Homo sapiens: one gene and its partners. The protein of the gene in region 4 purifies or fractionates together with the protein of the main gene of each other region. This does not show direct contact. Each region holds a gene or a part of one and is shown on either strand. Other genes may lie near its edges. The genes, in order: FBXO10, TPST2, DRG1, LARP4, MCTS1 and NBEAL2.

Region 1 (3,500 bases), on a different chromosome or scaffold from region 4:
GTCATAATTAGTCATAAATAAAGGATAATTAGAAAATGTTAGTATGTTTGGATATTACAAAACACATTTCTCGAATATAATATCTATTGGTTAAAGAAAAAGAATTACAATGGAAATTAGAATATTTTTAGAAATAAACAACAAAGAAGGCTGGGCGCAGTGGCTCATGCCTGTATCCCAGCATTTTGGGAGGCCAAGGCAGGTGGAACACCTGAGGTAAGGAGTTCGAGACCCGCCTGAGCAACATGGTAAAACCCTGTCTCTACTAAAATACAAAAACATTAGCTGGGCATGGTGGCGCATGCATGCAATCCCAGCTACTTGGGAGGCTGAGGAGGCAGGATAATCCCTTGAACCCGGGAGGTGGAGGTTGCAGTGAGCCGAGATTGTGCCATTGCACTCCAGCCTGGGCAACAAGAGTGAAAGTCTGTCTCGGAAAAAAAAAAGAAAAGAAATAAACAACAGAGATACCACATATCAAAACTTGTGAACTCCTGCTGAAACAGAATTTGGAAAAAAATGTATAACCTTAAATAGAGAGAATCAAAAAGATAAAAATTAATGAAACTAAACATCAATTTCAAGAAGTCAGAAAAAGAACAAAATAAATCCAAGGAAAATAGAAGAGAAAAATAAAGAACAGAGCAGAACTTATGAAACAGAAAACAAATTTATTATGAAGACTATCACTGATGATAAGAGCAGGTTCTCTGAAAAGAACCTCTACTAAAACCAAAGAAGAAGGAAAAAAAAGCATTAAAATGAAATCAGAATGAAAGAGGGGATATCTCTATAGATGCTGTACACCAAATGATAAGAAAATATTATAAACGGCCAGGTGCGGTGGCTCACGCCTGTAATCCCAGCACTTTGGGAGGCTGAGGCAGGTGAATCACGAGGTCAAGAGATGGAGACCATCCAGACCAACGTGGTGAAACTCCGTCTCTACTAAAAATACAAAAAATTAGCTGGGCGTGGTGGCACGTGCCTGTAGTCCCAGCTACTCAGGAGGCTGAGGCAGGAGAATCGCTTGAAACCGGAAGGCGGAGGTTGCAGTGAGCTGAGATTGCGCCACTGCAGTCCAGCCTGGCGACAGGGCAAGACTCCGTCTCAAAAAAAAAAAAAAAAATTATAAACAACTTTATATAAGTAAATATGAAGGGATAAACTCCTAGGAAAATATTACTTAGTTAAGAAATTATAAAAACAAAATCACCCTAGAACCATTAAAGACATTGAGTCTGTGGTCAAAAATAAGATTGCAAAGAAAACACACCTGCGAGCCCAGGTGGCTTCATCACCAAGTTCTATCATACATTCAAGGGACAAAGAAGGGGAAACTAAAATGGATGGTGGAAGAGGATGATATGGGTATTTGTTAGATTTCTGGACCAACTGCAGCAGCAAGGGTTGTAATTTGTCTCACTAATCTTCCTCTTATAAGTTTTCCCAGGATTTGTGACTAACCAGAATCCTGGAGAAGCTGTACCTGGATACAGTGAACTTAATATAAGAAGCAAGCCTATCTGTATGGTACAAGAAGTGGACTGTGGAGAATACTACTGGTTCCATCCAGATCATCTTTACTGGTTAGCACACCTGTCACTGAGATGTGGTGTCAGCTGAGAACAACTCACAGATGTCCCTTTCTCCAGAAAACTGCAACTGCCCCCTCACCAGGCTGTGCCTCTCCTCCCCCAATCCAGCTTTCCTCATACTCCTCTTCCTGAGGGCTTCTCCCACAGTCTCACTTGAACAAGAATCTCTATTTTATGCCCTGCTTCTACAGAATGGGATCGAAGATATCACCATTTAAGAGGGTGAAAAGAGAGCCATATATATATATATATATATATATATATATATATTTCCTTATTGAAAAATCAATTTAAAAAATTTAAAAATGGCAAGAGACATGAATAGACAGTTCACAAAAGAGGCAATCCAATTAACCAACAAAAAACTGCTCAAGGGCTGGGCATGGTAGCTCACACCTGTAATCCCAGCACTTGGGGAGGCTGACATGGGAGAATAGTTTGAGTCCAGGAGTTTGAGACCAGCCTGGAAAATATGGCAAGACCTGGTCTCTACAAAAAAAAATAAAATAATTATCTGGCTGTCCCAGCTGCTCAGGGGGCTGAGGTGGGAGAGATCTCTTGAGCCTAGGAGGTTGAGGCTACAGTAAGCCATGATCACGCCACTGCAATCCAGCCTGGGTGACAAAGCAAGACCCTGTTTCCAAAAAAAAGAAAAAAGAAAAAAGTGCTCAACCTCAAGAGTAACCAAGGAGAGCAAGTTAAAACCACAAGAAATATCAAGACACACACATGAAAATAGTTAAAATATTAAAACCAATAAAAGCAACTATTTGCCAGGATATGAAGCAACTGGAACTCTCATATACTCCTGGTAGGAAAGTAAACTGTTCGACACTATCTAGTAAAGCAATTGTACTCTAACATATATAACCTAAAGAAACTTGTTCAAATACATCAGAAAATATCTAAGGATGTACTTGGCAGTCAGAAACTATAAGCAACTCAAGTATCCATCAACCACAGGATGAATACATCTATTGTGACACAGCCATACCATGAAACACTGTTGGCAACGAAAATAAGTGAGGCCGCCACGTGGATGCATCTCACAAACAAGTTGAGCAAAAGAAGCAAAACACAAAATGCAAAAGTATGATTCTATATGTATGAAATTAAAAAACTTAAAACTATATTGTTTAGGGATATATACATAGGTGATATAATTACAAAGAAAAGCAAAAAAATGATTATCACAAGATGATTTCTTCTAGGGGAGGAAATTATGATTTGGAAGCAGGTACTGAGTATTGGCAATGTTCCAGTTCTTGACATGTTGGTGATTACGTGTGTATTTCCTTTAGAGTTATTTGCTAAACTATATATTGTGTTTTTTACCATGCATATTTGCTGTATTTCATATTCAAAAAGTTTAAAACAAATAAATGAAATAAATATACTGATTATTGTTTCTTAGAAAAATTGAGAAAACTAAAATCCTTTATTTTTAAATTAAAACCTTGCCTGCAAAATCCCTAACAGGGTACATGCCAAGTAAATTTTCCAGAATGCCTAAATCTGTGTGGCTCAGGGTGACCTGACGACCCCTCTTTACATATGGAAAAGTAAGGTGAGTAGGCACCCAAAGTCCTGGGGTAGCTATCTTGTTGAAGGCTGTCATTCCTGAGAATCATCGGTAGGCAGAACCCTGGAGAGTATGTGGAACCAATTTGCCAAAGGGATTTGGGTTAAGGTTAAGAAGAGAAGGGACTGAGCCCACAAACTCTGATAAGAAGTTTGAAAACAGAGACATCTCTTGGGTGGTCTAGATGACCATGACCAAGGTTGCTAGCAGGAAGGGCCCCAAATGCCCTAAAAGAGAACTCTCCAGGACACCAGGGGAACCCAGCCTGGTGAAAAGCTCAACAAAAGCCCAGAGTGAGGTGCTTTGGGGAGAATGGCTGA
Region 2 (2,637 bases), on a different chromosome or scaffold from region 4:
AGGTTGCAGTGAGCCAAGATCACACCATTGCACTCCAGCCTGGGCGACAAGAGTGAAACGCTCTCAAAAAAACATACAAACAAACAAAAAAACAAGTTGTTTTAAGTCACTCAGTTTGGGGCTGCTTGGTTGGGCCGCAAGAGATGAGTGGAACAATGAATGAGACTGGATGTCCTCTGCTACCCAATGACTGGCAACCATGAGCTTCCTGGGTCTGTAATTCCATCAGCTGTCCATCCCTTACCCTGGAAGGGTAGAGGATTTATTCTTTGGGTAGACATAGTTTAAGAGTTTTTTTGTTTTTGTTTTTTGTTTTCAATGAAAAATTGCCAAGCCCTTTGGAGGCCCTGATGGCTCAACCAGGTTGGTGGCTGCTAACGAGAGTGAAGATCTATATTCAGTCCATCTGGCACATGTGCAGAAGACCCTTCTCCAACCCCAGATCATGACTACAAATGGCTATCAGTTGGACAAACATACATCCTGATGAGAAGATATGGTTGGTTCATCACAACCTTTTATTTCACAATATTAATAGTAATCATTATAGCTACCATGTATTAAGCCTTCACCATGGGGCTGTTAAGTCTTCATTGCTTAGCTTTACTAAACTAGATAATGTGTTTGCTTATCTCATGGATTTCTCTTAACCATCCCCTGAGATCCCCCTATAGTTCTTATCCCTTTACCCCCATTTTACAGAAGAGGAAAACTGAGGCTCAGAGAAGGGGAGTCACTTGGCCACAGTCGCACAGTTGGAAAGTGGTAGAGCCAGGATGAGACGCTAATTCTGACTCCAAAGCTAGTTATATATAATAATAGCACCCAAGTAATGTATAGATTACCATGTTTTCACATATGGCAAATTAAGGAATCAGAATGAATGATGCATGCTGCCCAAGCTGGACAGAGGATGGGCCAGGGCACAAGTGACGGCTGACCCACTGATCCATGGAACCCCCAAGAAAGGCTCTAGAACAAAGCTCTGATTTCACAGTGAGATTAAAATTCTGCCCAAATCAGGGTACATGGGTGGAATTAATCAAAAAAGTTAGTATGTATGCCTTTCACCCCAGCAATTCTACTTCTCATTTTGCAGAGACTCACTCATACAGTGGCATCAAGAGGTTATATGTGCAGGAGAACGTCCACTGCAGCTTTGCCAGTAGCGATGAAAACTGCTAACAGCCTAAGGGCCTAGCCAAAGTGGAATGCTCAAAAAAGATGGTTTGCTCTAGAACAGGCAGCTGGTAAAAGGAGTGGTGTTAGATCAGCACATGTTCACATCAGAAATGCTCCAGGAGCCAGGTGCGGTGGCTCACGCCTGTAAACCCAACTCTTTGAGAGGCTGAGGAAGGATTGCTTGAGCCCAGGAGTTTGAGACCAGCCTGGGCAACATAGTGATTCCCCTCTTTACAAAAAATAAAAAGTTAGGTAGGTGTCATGGTCCAGCTACTCAGGAGGCTGAGGTGAAAGGACTGCTTGAGCCCAGGAGTTAGAGGTTGCAGTGAGCTGTGTTTGCAGGAGTTAGAGGTTGCAGTGAGCTGTGTTTGCAGGAGTTAGAGGTTGCAGTGAGCTGTGTTTGCAGGAGTTAGAGGTTGCAGTGAGCTGTGTTTGCAGGAGTTAGAGGTTGCAGTGAGCTGTGTTTGTGCCACTGCACTGCAGCCTGAGCAACCAAGCGGGACTCTGTCTCCAAAACAAACAAACAAACAATCCTCCAGAGCAATCTGTTAAATTACATTTTGGAATAACCTATTCAAAATGGTTTTTTCCATACGTCTTTAAGATGATAATATTTATATGTTCAAAAATTTAAAGTCTGGAAGACTATGTACAAACAGAAAATGGTAGCATTACCTTTAGGAGCTATTGAGAGGAAGTACAAATAGAGCCACTTGCCTTCTTACTATCAATTCTGATTGTCCCATGTTTTATAATATATTCATGTAGTACTCTAAACAAAATCTTTTCAGATCAAATCAGGGGAGATGAAATGAGAGTGGATTCTGAGCCTAGTTTTTTTCAGGGAACAAGACCCAGTGCTACCACTTAGGGGCTAGAAACAGAAATTGTATTTATTTTATTTTGTTTTATTTATTTTATTTTTGAGATGGAGTCTCACTCTGTTGCCCAGGCTGGAGTGTACTAGCATGATCTTGGTTCACTGCAACCTCTGCCTCCTGGGTTCAAGCAATTCTCCTGCCTCAGCCTCCCAAGTAGCTGCAACTACAGGCATGCGCCACGACGCCCAGCTAATTTTTGTATTTTTAGTAGATGGGGTTTCGCCACGTTGGCCAGGCTGGTCTGGAACTCCTGACCTCAGCTTATCTGCCCACCTCAGCCTCCCAAAGTGCTGGGATTACAAGCATGAGCCACCGGGCCCGGCCTCTTTATTTTCTTTCAGTGTTTTCCCAGGAAGTTCTCTGAACATCCAGGGTCTTCACAGATGGACTTCTCATAAAAGGTAACTCCTGGAACCAGACATAAATTTTTTTTTTGGGGTGTGTGGTGATGGGATACATAGCTGTCGCCAGATTCTCAAAGGGACAGTGTCACACTTAACAGAGCAAGGAGAGTAATCGGTGATTGGTGAATGATCATTTATCAGAGACTGTGTGTCAAACATTTAAAAAATAA
Region 3 (2,175 bases), on a different chromosome or scaffold from region 4:
AGAATCGCTTGAACCCGGGAGGCGGAGGTTGCGGTGAGCCGAGATCATGCCATTGCACTCCAGCCTGGGCAGCAAGAGCGAAACTCCATCTCAAAAAAAAAAAAAGAAAAAGAAAAAGAAAAAAGCATTTTAGTGGCCCAGGTGGCAACATAGTTCAGCTCAACATTCAACCCAACACTGATGATGTACAGCTGTGCTCTGCATAGGGCAGACAGCCCAGTAAAAGGCTCGGTGCAACAAAAGCCAAGAGTCATTGAGTACTTACAAATTGCTTAGCACAGTATTTGACATATAAGTACCATCTCCCTCCATTACTAACAATCACCACCGCAGAAAGTAAGTGCTATTACTATCCCCATGTTACATGAGGAAACTGAGGCTCATAAAGGTTGGGTAATTTGTTCAGGGCTCCACAGCTAACTAGAGGTGGACCTGCAATTTCAAACCCTGATCTGCCTGGTCGGAGTACTTAATTACATGATCTCCCAAAATAGGTTAGCCTTGCGGGGAGTGATCAATTAACTTACATAAAGTCCTTCCTCTCTCCAGTATCATGTGGGAAAGACTACTTGAAAGGACTGAAAGCCATATCTAGTTTGGAAGGGGTTCCCATAAGTAAACATCAAGTAAGATGCAGCATGTCATATTTTTATCCATTTCACACTCAAGATGAAGTTCCCAAGGATCCCTTCTGTAGCTGCTTCACCGTATATACCCTTCCTCATTCAGCCCATCCCAAAACAAATTCTGACAATGACACATGAGCTGCATGTAGCTGACCAGCCTACCAGATCTTTTATGCAGTTCGACATACAAGGTGACACCAAGGTAAGACAAATGAAGTTCCAGTTTGGGTGCCTCCATCTCCCTCCCCTGGATCCTGATCCAGTGACTGCCAAAACCAGAAAGAACTGGGGTAGGGTGCTTGATCATGGGGAACGCTGTTGTGGTTCGTCCGGCAGATGGGAAAAGGGAAAGGTTTCACTTCTTCACAATTTGAATGACATCCTCATCCTCCAACGTATGGTCTTTACCCACTTTCTGAGGATTGTGTTTCACAGAGAGACCCCAGACCAGAGCACTGCATGGAAGGGAAAAAGAACAGTCAGTGTAAATAATAACCTAGCTTCTGCCCTATTTGCCTGGATGCCACCCTTCTGCTCAGATTTAGTATCATACCCTTAAGAACCATAGACCTACAAAAGCTTTATCTTCCCTAGCAGCATGAGACACTGAAGCCTTAACATAAAAGCCGGTAAAGACTTCTGGAAGTTGTGTGGTTCCTCTTATTGCAGAAAGTCAAAGACAAAAAACATGTTTAGTATAAAGAGCCTAGTTTAAAATTAAAAGAAAGCATGGATTTGTTATAGAGAAATACTCTGGGCCGGGCGCAGGGGCTCATGCCTGTAATCCCACCACTTTGGGAGGCCGAAGGGTGCGGATCACCTGAGATCAGGCGTTCAAGAAAAGCCTGGCCAACATGGTGAAACCCCGTCTCCACTAAAAATACAAAAATTAGCTGGGCATGGTGGCGGGTGCCTGTAATCCCAACTACTCGGGAGGCTGAGGCAGAAGAATGGCTTGAACCCGGGAGGCGGAGGTTGCAGTGAGCCAAGATCATGCCGTTGCACTCCAGGTTGGGCAACGAGCGAAACTCCGCCTCAAAAAAAAAAAAAAAAATCCGTCTTTAATCTTCATAGAGAAATACCCTGAAAATTTCAGACTGATTCTTACAGATACAATATCACTTATAGACTGTTAGAGAATACCTGTTTTTGCTGGGTTTCCTGAAACCATCAGTGGGTACTGACAAGAAATTAGGGCCTCCCTCTTCAGCCATGCCAGGAAAATCTTCCTCCCTAACCAGAAACTGTAATTGATATGTCCTCCCGATTTACTGGAATATGTGAAGGTAATTTATATCCATGGGCCTCCAAACTTAAGAATATGTTGTGCTAGAGATGAAAACTGGTGAATAAGACACCGAGACCTGCCTCACAGAGACTAAGAACTATGTACCAAGAGTAAAAAAGGTGGCCATATTGTTGTTATATTATCATTGAGTCAAAACCTCTTTAAAAAATCTATATTCCAGGCCGGGCACGGTGGCTCATGCCTCTAATTCCAGCACTTTGGGAGGCTGAGGCGGGCGGATCACGAGGTCAGGAGTTCGAG
Region 4 (3,310 bases):
TTTCTTCAACCATCTTTCTCATCTTTACTAAAAAATCTCATGACTTGCTGGTACTGTTTCAGTGAATTCCAAACTGTATTTTGTTGGGTGTGGGGGGAGAAGAGGAGGGAAGGAAGGTAATACACTGTAAACAGAAATAAGTCCCCCCTCCCAAATTAAGCCTTTAAAAAAAATTTTTTTACTTCTACATTATTTAACACTTAAGAGTCAGTTACTATGCTTAATCTTTAACACTAACGACAAATAAATTACTGTACGGTCAGTCTGCCCTACCATCTTGGGAGCTAAAATTCTAAATGTGTGAACAGAAGAGTTAATACTTCAATGTTCAATTCTGAAATTTAGAACAATTTATATGATTTGACTAGACTGCTCAAAGCAATTACAAACACACAATTGAGTAGGTAGTTGGTTATTTTGCTTTTCTGTGGGTGGGCAGTCAAAGAACAGAGAGTAACAAATGGAGTAAGAAAAAAAATTTTGTTTCTCATTTTGGGGGTATTCGGGGGAATCACAGGGAAGTTTAAACCTCTGAAATCCATTTGACCTATGCACTGAGGTCCAAGATGAAATTTTCAATTTCTTGAATAACCCCCTTTCCTTGAGTATCAAACTGATTGGTAGTCACATCTCTAAGTACAATCAGAGTTTTACAACTTGTTAAATGAAATATTAGTAAGGTCAAAAAGACAGACTAAATTTCAAACTAGAAAAAAAAATCTACTCAAGTATTACATTCAGTTTTCAAATCATTTACTAACATGACAACAGATTTGGCTTCAATCGCTCTTGTACACACTCACACCCACAACAGGCACCCCAGCCACTGATCCGCTTTGCAATACAAGGCCATATAGTCAGAGATGGCATTCTTCAAGCCAAACTTTAAATAGATTAAAAAAAGTAATTTCTAATTTTACAGAAATGCTTCTTCAAAAAATATTTTCTCTCATTCCCTCATCTCCTATACTGAAGGATGTATGTTTCTTTTTTTTCTTCCAAGCTAAATCTGAACCCTCAAAATTGATTCCTGGCAGCAAATCTCTGCAAATTAAAACCAAAAACAAAAATAGAAAAATTATACTTTTTATATATGTGTGTGTATATATATATATATATTTATATTGATTGGAATCCTCCAGCATTTAAAAACCACATTAGAGATGAATTTTGGGATCCTATCACTCACAACTCCAAAATCCATAATGAAATGGACGTACTTTCTCTTGTTTCCTTCCTGGCTACCCCCTCCCCTCCAAAACAGTTCAATATAGCCACAGTTCAAGTTTAATGGGAAGAGAGTGAAGTTTTTGAATAGTTTTGTTGTTTTTTACTTTGGTGATCTGGGTGGCACATATTGCTCTTTGCCATTACGTCGAGTCACTCCCTGAGGTATAGCCCTATGGCTAAACTGGCGTCTCTGTTCCCTGATTTTTCCTGCTGCTCCCCTGGGGATTATATTGCCTCGGAAGCCAGAATAATCCTTACTAGCCCTTGCTTCTGGCTTCTCATGTGGTTTCTCAACGGAGTTCTCAGGAGCTCCATTGTCTTCATTTTTGGTGGGAGACACCACATTGGAGCGAAGTTCCCGTAGTGGCTGCACAAGAACTGAAGATGGCTCTTTAGGGGGCTTCTGGCACACTTCAGCATAACTTAACTTTCGGGGTTCCTTTGAAGTGATGATAAAAAAAAACATTTATGGTACACATTCTTTAAATTATAAAGTATAAAAATGATTGTGTTAACCATAAGAAAACCACAGATTATCTTCCAGAAAAGGGCAACAAGCACTCTCATATATACTGCTTAGAGTACACTGGTACAATCTTTATTTATTATACAATAATTTCACGTAAGGAATTTAACTGAAGGATGTTCATGTCAGCGTTGTTTATAATGATGGGAGCGACCTAAATGCCTAACAAAGGACAGATTAGATGAATAATGGTATAGCCATATGATGAAATAAAATGGTTCTTTCTGCTCCTGTTTCCTTGCTACAAAGAACCCCAAGAAAGATGACAAAAGAATCCCAGCAGAGCAGTTAGAATCCAATGGTATAAAAAGACTCATTAAAAGTCTTAATTACCTCAACTGAAAAAGGTGGAATAGAGGTATTGTGAGAACAGAATAAAACATGTAAAGTCTTCAGCACTAGTCCTAATAATATATAGTAAGCATTCAAATGGTAGCTATTATTTTAGTATTATTACTATCATTGAATGAGAAGATAGTCTTCTAAATCTATTTTTAAAAGTGCTGTACTAAAATGCTAGGGATTATAGGTAAATTTTGTGTTTTGTTCTGCTTTTCTGTATTTTCCCAATTATATAACTATAAAACAATTCTGGAACTTGATAAATGGGAGTGGCCTCTCAATGGCCACTTATAGACTTGTTAAGTATCACATATACAACCAAAAGAATATCAAGAGGCACAAGGCCTCTTTATGTTAGCCCCAAAATGATAAATTCATCCTAACGTGGGTAAGGAAGAAGCTTCACTTAACCATATGAACAGAAAAAAAGCAATCAAAAGAAACAGAATGGGCCAGGCGCGGTGGCTCACGCATGTAATCCCAGCACTTTGGGAGGCCGAGGCGGGTGGATCACGAGGTCAGGAGATTGAGACCATCCTGGCTAACACAGTGAAACCCCGTCTCTACTAAAAATACAAAAAATTAGCCAGGCATAGTGGTGGGCACCTGTAGTCCCAGCTACCCGGGAGGCTGAGGCAGGAGAATGGCGTGAACCCGGGAGGCGGAGCTTGCAGTGACGCGAGATCGTGCCACTGCACTCCAGCCTGGGCGACAGAGTGAAGACTCAGTCTCCAAAACAAAACAAAAAAAAGCCTAAAACTTTCCATCTCTTTGCAGTGACCCTAACACTCCTTAAGCTTCTTTCTGATAGTCAGCCCCAACTTGGGCTACTTCCAAATGACTCTGTTCTAACAAAGTGTTACGTGAAAAAAAAAAAAAAATCTAATCTATTGTATTTTTTTTAACATAAACTAAAATCTTCAAGTTACCTGTAGAGCCACAGCTGTAGCTGCATTTATGTTATTATTACATGGTGAAGCAGTACTTGCCCTCGATGGCTTTGTAGTACTTGGAGGAGAAACTGGTATAGTTGTCTGATTGAGACCATCCTTCTGAACAGAGGAATCTTCTATTAGATCCTTTTCTTGCTGAGTTGTGCTAAGGAAAAAAGAGCTTGCAATTAGACTCAGAATAGCATATAGGAACAGTTGAGCAACTAATCAGAAGAAAACGTAATTTTTTTTTTTGAGACGGAGTCTCACTCTGTCACCC
Region 5 (3,500 bases), on a different chromosome or scaffold from region 4:
TGAAAGTAAAGCATTTTAAAATTGGAGAATGAAATGAAGAGCAATAACATTTGTTATATGAAAACTGTGGTTTTACTTTTAAAATGGGATTTTAAAAATGTATTAGTTGGGTCGGGTGTGGTGGTTCACACCTGTAATCCCAGCACTTTGGGAGGCCAAGGCGGGTGCATCACCTGAGGTCAGGAGTTTGAGACCAGCCTGGCCAACATGGTGAAACCCTGTCTCTACTAAAAATACAAAAATTAGCTAGGTGTGGTGGCACACGCATGGGATCCCAGCTACTCGGGAGGCTGAGGCAGGAGAATCGCTTGAACCCGGAAGACAGAGGTTGCAGTGAGCCGAGATCGTGCCATTGCACTCCAGCCTGGGCAATGAAGCAAGACTCCATCTCAAAAACAACAACAACAACAACAACAACAAATGTATGAGTTGGATGAGTTTAATTTTTTGCTTTCTGTTTCTGCCTAAAGATAAACCAATTTAGCATATATTGATATTAAGATGTCTGCCATATTTTGAACGTTAGCCTGTTGATTTACAGTCTTCCAAATAAGACTGATGCCTGAAGCTCATTTTTTGGTTAACTGCTTCTGTTAGTTGCACACCTTTTCCTACCTTCCTCTAATCTTAAGTCTATTTAGTCATTTGAAATATCAGTTTTCACCTGTTAGTATTACTAGCTATGTTTGCTATATTTCACAAATACATTTCTAAAACAATCCATTAATTAGAATTGGACATTAATAGTGAGGCATGTCATTCTCTGTAACAACTAAGATTTTAAGTAGAAATTATTTCACTAATTCATCTTTTATTTCTCAAAGTATTCAAGGCTAAAATTTGGAGTTCTTTAATTTTCATTCTAAGAGGCAAGTATTAATTATACTAATGAGTTCAGATGTTTTTATTTATTTTTCCTCCCAATGACCTATTCTTAATGAACATGGTATTATTAAGAGACATTCCAGTGAATCATCTCCTGTATTTTTTTACATGCATAAATTATATTCCCTAAGGCCAGACTCTTAAACAGACAGATGAACCTAATAGTCTCAACAATGATTTAAAAACTGGCCCTCAATTTTCTTCATTCATTCCTGATCTCGTGGAGTTGTGGTCCTTTACTTGGTTTTAACACAGTATTCAACAAATTGTTGTTATAGTTGATAACATCTACTCATTCTTTTACCTGCCTTAAAAAGTGTAATAAAAGTATTCATACAAAGTATAAAATACATACAAGTATAAAAATGTATAATACATTTAATTTACATGCATCTCTACAATGACAAGTATGATTTCTTTAGAAACTGATGCATACATTTTCACTGTTTTTCTTTCATTATATATCAGTTTTAATGCATACTACTTAGAAATTAGAATCATTTTGAGTTTCTTGAAGAGCCTTGATAATTATAGTCTCAAAATTAAGGAACCTAGACAAACAAAGTTAAAATATTTATGACATTTTGCTTGGGCATACATTCATATTTCCATTAATATATAATTGCTACATTATTAATAAGTGACATATTTATTATAATGAAACACCTCCACGAATTTAGTGAATTGTAATTCTTATCTCTTCCTCTGAAGTATTATACTTAGAAATACGTATCTTCAGTTACTGATTTGGGTACGACAGGGAACCTGGCTGGATATCATTATTATTTGATATATGCCATATAACCTTCTGTTTGGGGAATATAAAATCCCTCAAATTGGAAATGTTCATGACTACCCATGGGATAAATCCAGCTGTTTTTGTTTGGGGTCCAGAGCATAAAAACAGAAAAGGAAAAATGCAGCTTCCCAACAGACCACTACCAAACCACCATAACAGACAGTCTGCTAGAAGAGAACTGATCAGGCCATTATGTCACCGGACAACAGGACAATCATCTGAGTTGGGATGCTGAATCACGGCAACTCCAAGACATCTGGGATTTTTTTTTTACCCTCACATTGGATACAATCTATGGAATATTACTACATTTAGTTCATTTGTAATTTACAATTTTTGATGACTAAAATTGGAAAAGGATTAGTACATTCCTACTGGCTTTACATATTAGTATTGGGCTGTCACCATTACCCAGATTATTTAAAATGTAAATTTTCTTTACTCACTAGATTGGAAGCTCCTTAAGAGCAAGGGCTACTTCTGTATTATTCATCTTCATGCCACGTCACTTAGAACCTAGTAGATACTCAATAAATACCTATTGAGCTGAACTGACCTTGTCTGAGTAAAAGTGAGTCCAATACACAAGTTACTAGATTGTAGGTTGGTTTGACACAAACTTAATTTTGAAACTAAAAATGAACTAAAGACACACTGCCTGAGAGAAGCAGGCTCTCTATCCCTGTATTCCTATTCTCACGAATATAGGTAAACTAAGTTTCCATTAAGCACAGTATCTAAAGATGCTGACACATCTGCTAGTTTAATCTCTTTGAATTGCCTTTCATGTATGACCTAATGTTTAGAAAATGACAAGGATCACACATGTAGAGTGACATCCCTGATTAACAGTGATGAGCAGAGGCCTCAGACCCAGGGGAAGCAGAGAACATACATATTTAGTCCATATCACCAAGGCAACACAGTGTACCTCAGCACAGTAGAAAAACAAGCACAGATGTTGATGTTGAATATTTAAAAAGTGTTCCTTACACCCACTGTAACAGTGGTTAGACACAAAGATGAATTATTTCAAAAACCAAGCTATTAAAAGTTTTTACTTCTCTAATGTATGTATATGTGTGCTTTGTTTTTCATTGCTAATACTCCATAGGCAGTCTTGGTCAAAAAACATTCTCTTAGCAACAAAAATAAAGGTTCAAAGTTTGATTCTGACATAAATGACTTGTATATTCTTTTTAAGAACATAAGGAGCTACAGGCCTCAAATAGGGTGCCTCCTCCCCCAAATAGGGAGACATCTGAATTTGAAGCCAGTAAGTCAGCAAAAAATTAAACTATCTGTTGAAGAAACCCCCCTGGGAGATGACTTACAAATGAGTTCCTGATGAGACTATTTATACTTTCGTGGACCAGGAATAAATAATATGGTAAGCTGCAGAATAAAACTGTCATAACATAAGGAAAACTACATGGAACTTGAAAAGGATATAGGAAATAAAATATCAGGGCACCTCTATGGGCTAGGAAAGAGATGAGATTTTGGCAGAGATAAGCATTCTAATTAATGATGAAGCAGGAAAAATTCTCCAAGTCTTACCTCAGCACAACTGAAATATTACCCCAATTTATCAATCTTCCTTTGCTCATACCTGTGTTTACCAAGTAACTTCCTGTTTCCTAATTGTTTACCATAGGCAGACCTATCACTATGAATTAATACATTTATATTCTAACTGGGGAATCTCCAAGTCTCTCAAGTTTCATCAGTGGGAAATGGTTTCTCAAGCTGAGGGTCAGACCCTGGATCTATGTCCACCTATGTTACATCCTGGGAGACCCAGCTGGAACAGCCA
Region 6 (3,500 bases), on a different chromosome or scaffold from region 4:
GCCATACACAGGAACCACTTGGTGGTGGCTGCATGCAGGACTGGGAGAACCAAAGACCAAGCAAGAGTTTAGGGACAGAGACAAGAGAAGACATCTTGGGCTGGAGCGAGGGCCTCCCATCAGGTGGAGGGGTGGGGTCAACCTGCCTACCCAGATTTCTCATCCTCTTTCCCCGCCATCTCCTGGATCCTTCTAGCCACTTGTACCCTACTGTGATCTTAAAACTCTCTGGTCCAATCCCTTTGTCCCCATAGCCTCCACGCATCTCCACCCATCCCGGAGACACAGGAGGTATCTCCACCTCCTGTTCCCTGGCTGCTGGAGGATCTGGTGCCCAGGACAGCTGTGGCTGCCTGTTCACAGGTGGTCCTGTGAACCTGTTCTCCCTGGTGACCCTCCACCCCTGGGTCCCCTCTCTCCTCTCATTGGAGGGAGACTGGCCAGGACTTTAGATAGGCTCAGGGTGGGATATGGCCTGGACAGAGGTGGGCAGGGCTGTGAAAAGGTGGTGACCTATTGGGATATTAAATGTCTCAGTGATGCCCCCATGGAGCTGTGGGCCTGGATCTAGAGTTGGGGCAGCAACTCCAGGAGGGGAGGCACCCCTAGGGAGCTCCTCGACTTTATTTTCCCATAGCCTGGGTGCTGTTATTAAAACAAACTGGATTTCATTTCTCCTCCCATCATATCCCTTGATGTCAACCTGACGTCCTCAAGATGAAATCCTACTCCTCCCACAGCCTTTCTCTCCACTTGCCCTGCTGCTCAGCCTGGCTTCTGTCCTCTCATTCCCAGACTGCTACCACTGACCCCACCTCAGGGTCTTAGCCCATGCTGTGCCTTCTCCCCTCCAACTGCATTCTCAGGTCTCCCCTCAAAAGCCCCATCCCCAAGGAGGCCTCCCACCCATCCAGCCGGAATCAAGCCCCAGCCCTACTCTTCCTCCTCTGCCAGGCATGTGACCCGGGGCTAGTCCCTTCTGCCCTCTGAGTTTCAGTCCCTGGCCTGGCATCCTGTCCAGTTTTGCTGGCGCAGGGCCAGGTGGGCCTCCTACGTATTAGGTTGTGAAAGCCCCTAGAAGTCCCAGGCAAAGGCATGGGCGTGGGGGGAGGTGGCATCAGTATAGTAGATACAGCAGAGTCCCCAGAGCACGGCATGGGAAGCACCAACCGTCACAGGGCAGAGGCAGCAAGAGATTTGCATCTGAGAAACTAAGCCCTGGTCATCATGGGGAAGTGGAAGGGTATGTGCTCATGCTGGGGCCCTCACTTTGGGGCTTAAGGATCTGGGAAGCTGGCTAGACTCTCAGGGCTGGTCTTTGTCACCCTTAAGTCCCCCAAAGAAGGGTTGTCCCTTTCAGGCCCTCTACTATACAGCCATAACTCCTTAGATGCCCCCCAGGGCAGAGCCAGCTCTTATCCCTCACACTGGATCTTTTACTTGGCCCAGCTCCCTCTCCCCTCCACCCCAGGGCACTCACCTCTTGTGCAGCCCCCTGGGTCCATAGCCCTGCAACCTTGGTGACATTACCCTGCCCACACCCCCCTACCCAGAGAGCCTACAGAATGCAGACCACTTGCCTCCCATACTGCTGTTACGTCTCATCCACCTCTTCTGCGCCGTCCTCGCTGGAGGAAAGGTAGGCTGGGAGGTGAGCCTGTGGACTAGAGAGCAGCTCTTTCAGTATCTCTCTGCTGGGTGAGCCCCTTGCCCACTGCCCATCTCTGTCCACACCTGCAGGAGAACGGGCAGATGGCTGTAAGTGATGGCTCTGTGAAGGGCCTGCTGAGTGTGGTGCGGGGCTGGAGCCGTGGGCCAGCCCCGGACCCGTGCCTAGTGCCACTGGCTCTAGAGGCACTGGTAGGTGCAGTCCATGTCTTGCATGCCAGCCGCGCACCTCCTCGTGGCCCAGAGCTTCGTGCCCTGCTTGAGAGCTACTTCCATGTCCTTAATGCTGACTGGCCAGCTGGTCTGAGCTCAGGCCCCGAAGAGGCCCTTGTCACCCTCCGGGTCAGCATGCTCGGTGGGTATGGGCTCCCAGGCTCTTGGGGAAGGGGCACCATGAGGGAAAAGCCTAAGTGATGATGGAAGGTCTGGATAGGGCAGCATAGGAAGGAAGGCTTAAGGCTGCCTAGAGGGGTCTGGGCAGGGCCTGACCCTTGACCCTTCCACAGACGCCATCCCCATGATGCTGGCATGTGAAGACCGGCCAGTGCTGCAAGCCACCTTCCTCAGCAACAATTGCTTTGAACACCTCACTCGGCTCATTCAGAACAGCAAGGTGGGTAGGGCCCAGCCTGGGGGTGAGGGTCTGGAAGCCAGAGGCTAGGGGAGCCACGCATAGGTGCCAGGCTGCTGCTGAGCAAACATGGGCTGGACAGAGTCAGTGTTTTGCAGCTGGTGGGATGGCTTGCAGTTCAGTGGGAGGGTGTGGGGCATGGACAAGGGCCCATCCCTTGGGGCCTCTATAGGACTGGGCTTGAGGCTTAGGACATCTTTGTGCCCCATGGAAGCGGGGCTTGTTATGGAAGGAAGGGAGCTGCTCTGGTGCCTTGTTTCCCTTTCCGTGGCCCCAAGTACAGGGGCTAGAGGAGGGCACCACTGCTTTCAGATGCAGTGCCTGCTCCCACCCGCTCATCCCCCCGACTGCCCATCTGAGCAGGGCACAGGGGGCTCAGCACCCTACTCTTCCCTAGTGCCGGGCAGGGCACCTGGCAGCTGCCCCTGGTCCTGCTCTAACCCCACCCTCTCCCATCTTCCTCCTCTCTTCTTTGCCTCCTCCACCCTGTGCCTCCCCACTTCCCCACAGCTGTACCTGCAGTCCCGGGCGCCCCCCGAGGGGGACAGTGACCTGGCTACCCGGTTACTGACTGAGCCCGATGTCCAAAAGGTACCATCCTGGGGCTGACCAGCTCAGACACCCCCTGGGACTCCCTCTTTGAGCTTTTCCTGCACTATAGCTGGGGAAATGAGCAGATGTGTGTAAGGCCTGGTGTGGTCTAGAAATGGGTGTGGGTCCTCCATGCTGTCTCGCCTGCCTTCCAAGTCCCCATCCTAGGGAACAGGACAGAAGGTGGTCTATCCCCTGCCTGGTGTTTGATTGGGTGTTGGGGGTCTGGCTGTGCCAAGCTGGATGGAACCTTCGAAACTCAGCCACCTACCTCATTTCTCAGAAGGGGAGACAGAAGCCCAGACACTCAAGGATTTGGCTATAGTCACAGAGAAAGGGGTCTCCCTCATGGTGCCATTTCTTTCTGTAGATTCTTGCACCCACCCTCAGCGGGTCACTGGGTGTCCCCCAGCCCCTGATGATGTGATCCCTGATTCACCTTGCATGTGGGCTGTAGGAGGCTGCAGGGTGTCAGCTGGCAGCTTCACAGCGGGCACCCTTTCTGGGGGCTCAACCTGTGGGCCCCAACCTCCATAGCCCCTACCCTGGCTCTGTCTTCATGAGGTAACCCTATGTGTTCACCGCATGTGGTCATTTTCTTAGAGCTTAC

The links.
Region 1: the proteins of LARP4 (region 4) and FBXO10 purify together in Homo sapiens (affinity purification with mass spectrometry; one large-scale study listed by BioGRID and IntAct). This does not show direct contact.
Region 2: the proteins of LARP4 (region 4) and TPST2 purify together in Homo sapiens (affinity purification with mass spectrometry; one large-scale study listed by BioGRID and IntAct). This does not show direct contact.
Region 3: the proteins of LARP4 (region 4) and DRG1 fractionate together in Homo sapiens (co-fractionation; one large-scale study listed by BioGRID). This does not show direct contact.
Region 5: the proteins of LARP4 (region 4) and MCTS1 fractionate together in Homo sapiens (co-fractionation; one large-scale study listed by BioGRID). This does not show direct contact.
Region 6: the proteins of LARP4 (region 4) and NBEAL2 purify together in Homo sapiens (tandem affinity purification; one large-scale study listed by IntAct). This does not show direct contact.

Annotation. Positions count from the first base shown.
Region 1 is NC_000009.12:37,569,881-37,573,380, forward strand, and holds part of FBXO10 (F-box only protein 10), read right to left. Parts: intron 1-3,500. UniProt on the Homo sapiens protein: Substrate-recognition component of the SCF (SKP1-CUL1-F-box protein)-type E3 ubiquitin ligase complex. Mediates the ubiquitination and degradation of BCL2, an antiapoptotic protein, thereby playing a role in apoptosis by controlling the stability of BCL2.
Region 2 is NC_000022.11:26,521,496-26,524,132, forward strand, and holds the end of TPST2 (protein-tyrosine sulfotransferase 2), read right to left. Parts: 3' UTR 501-2,637; downstream 1-500. UniProt on the Homo sapiens protein: Catalyzes the O-sulfation of tyrosine residues within acidic motifs of polypeptides, using 3'-phosphoadenylyl sulfate (PAPS) as cosubstrate.
Region 3 is NC_000022.11:31,432,778-31,434,952, reverse strand, and holds the end of DRG1 (developmentally-regulated GTP-binding protein 1), read right to left. Parts: intron 1,082-2,175; coding exon 982-1,081; 3' UTR 501-981; downstream 1-500. UniProt on the Homo sapiens protein: Catalyzes the conversion of GTP to GDP through hydrolysis of the gamma-phosphate bond in GTP. Appears to have an intrinsic GTPase activity that is stimulated by ZC3H15/DFRP1 binding likely by increasing the affinity for the potassium ions.
Region 4 is NC_000012.12:50,473,885-50,477,194, reverse strand, and holds part of LARP4 (la-related protein 4), read right to left. Parts: intron 3,197-3,310; coding exon 3,028-3,196; intron 1,670-3,027; coding exon 1,331-1,669; 3' UTR 1-1,330. UniProt on the Homo sapiens protein: RNA binding protein that binds to the poly-A tract of mRNA molecules. Associates with the 40S ribosomal subunit and with polysomes. Plays a role in the regulation of mRNA translation.
Region 5 is NC_000023.11:120,614,101-120,617,600, reverse strand, and holds part of MCTS1 (malignant T-cell-amplified sequence 1), read right to left. Parts: 3' UTR 1-3,500. UniProt on the Homo sapiens protein: Translation regulator forming a complex with DENR to promote translation reinitiation.
Region 6 is NC_000003.12:46,989,666-46,993,165, forward strand, and holds part of NBEAL2 (neurobeachin-like protein 2), read left to right. Parts: intron 1-3; exon of another isoform or gene 4-1,227; coding exon of another isoform or gene 1,228-1,243; intron 1,244-1,553; coding exon 1,554-1,639; intron 1,640-1,740; coding exon 1,741-2,023; intron 2,024-2,174; coding exon 2,175-2,281; intron 2,282-2,809; coding exon 2,810-2,890; intron 2,891-3,500. UniProt on the Homo sapiens protein: Probably involved in thrombopoiesis. Plays a role in the development or secretion of alpha-granules, that contain several growth factors important for platelet biogenesis.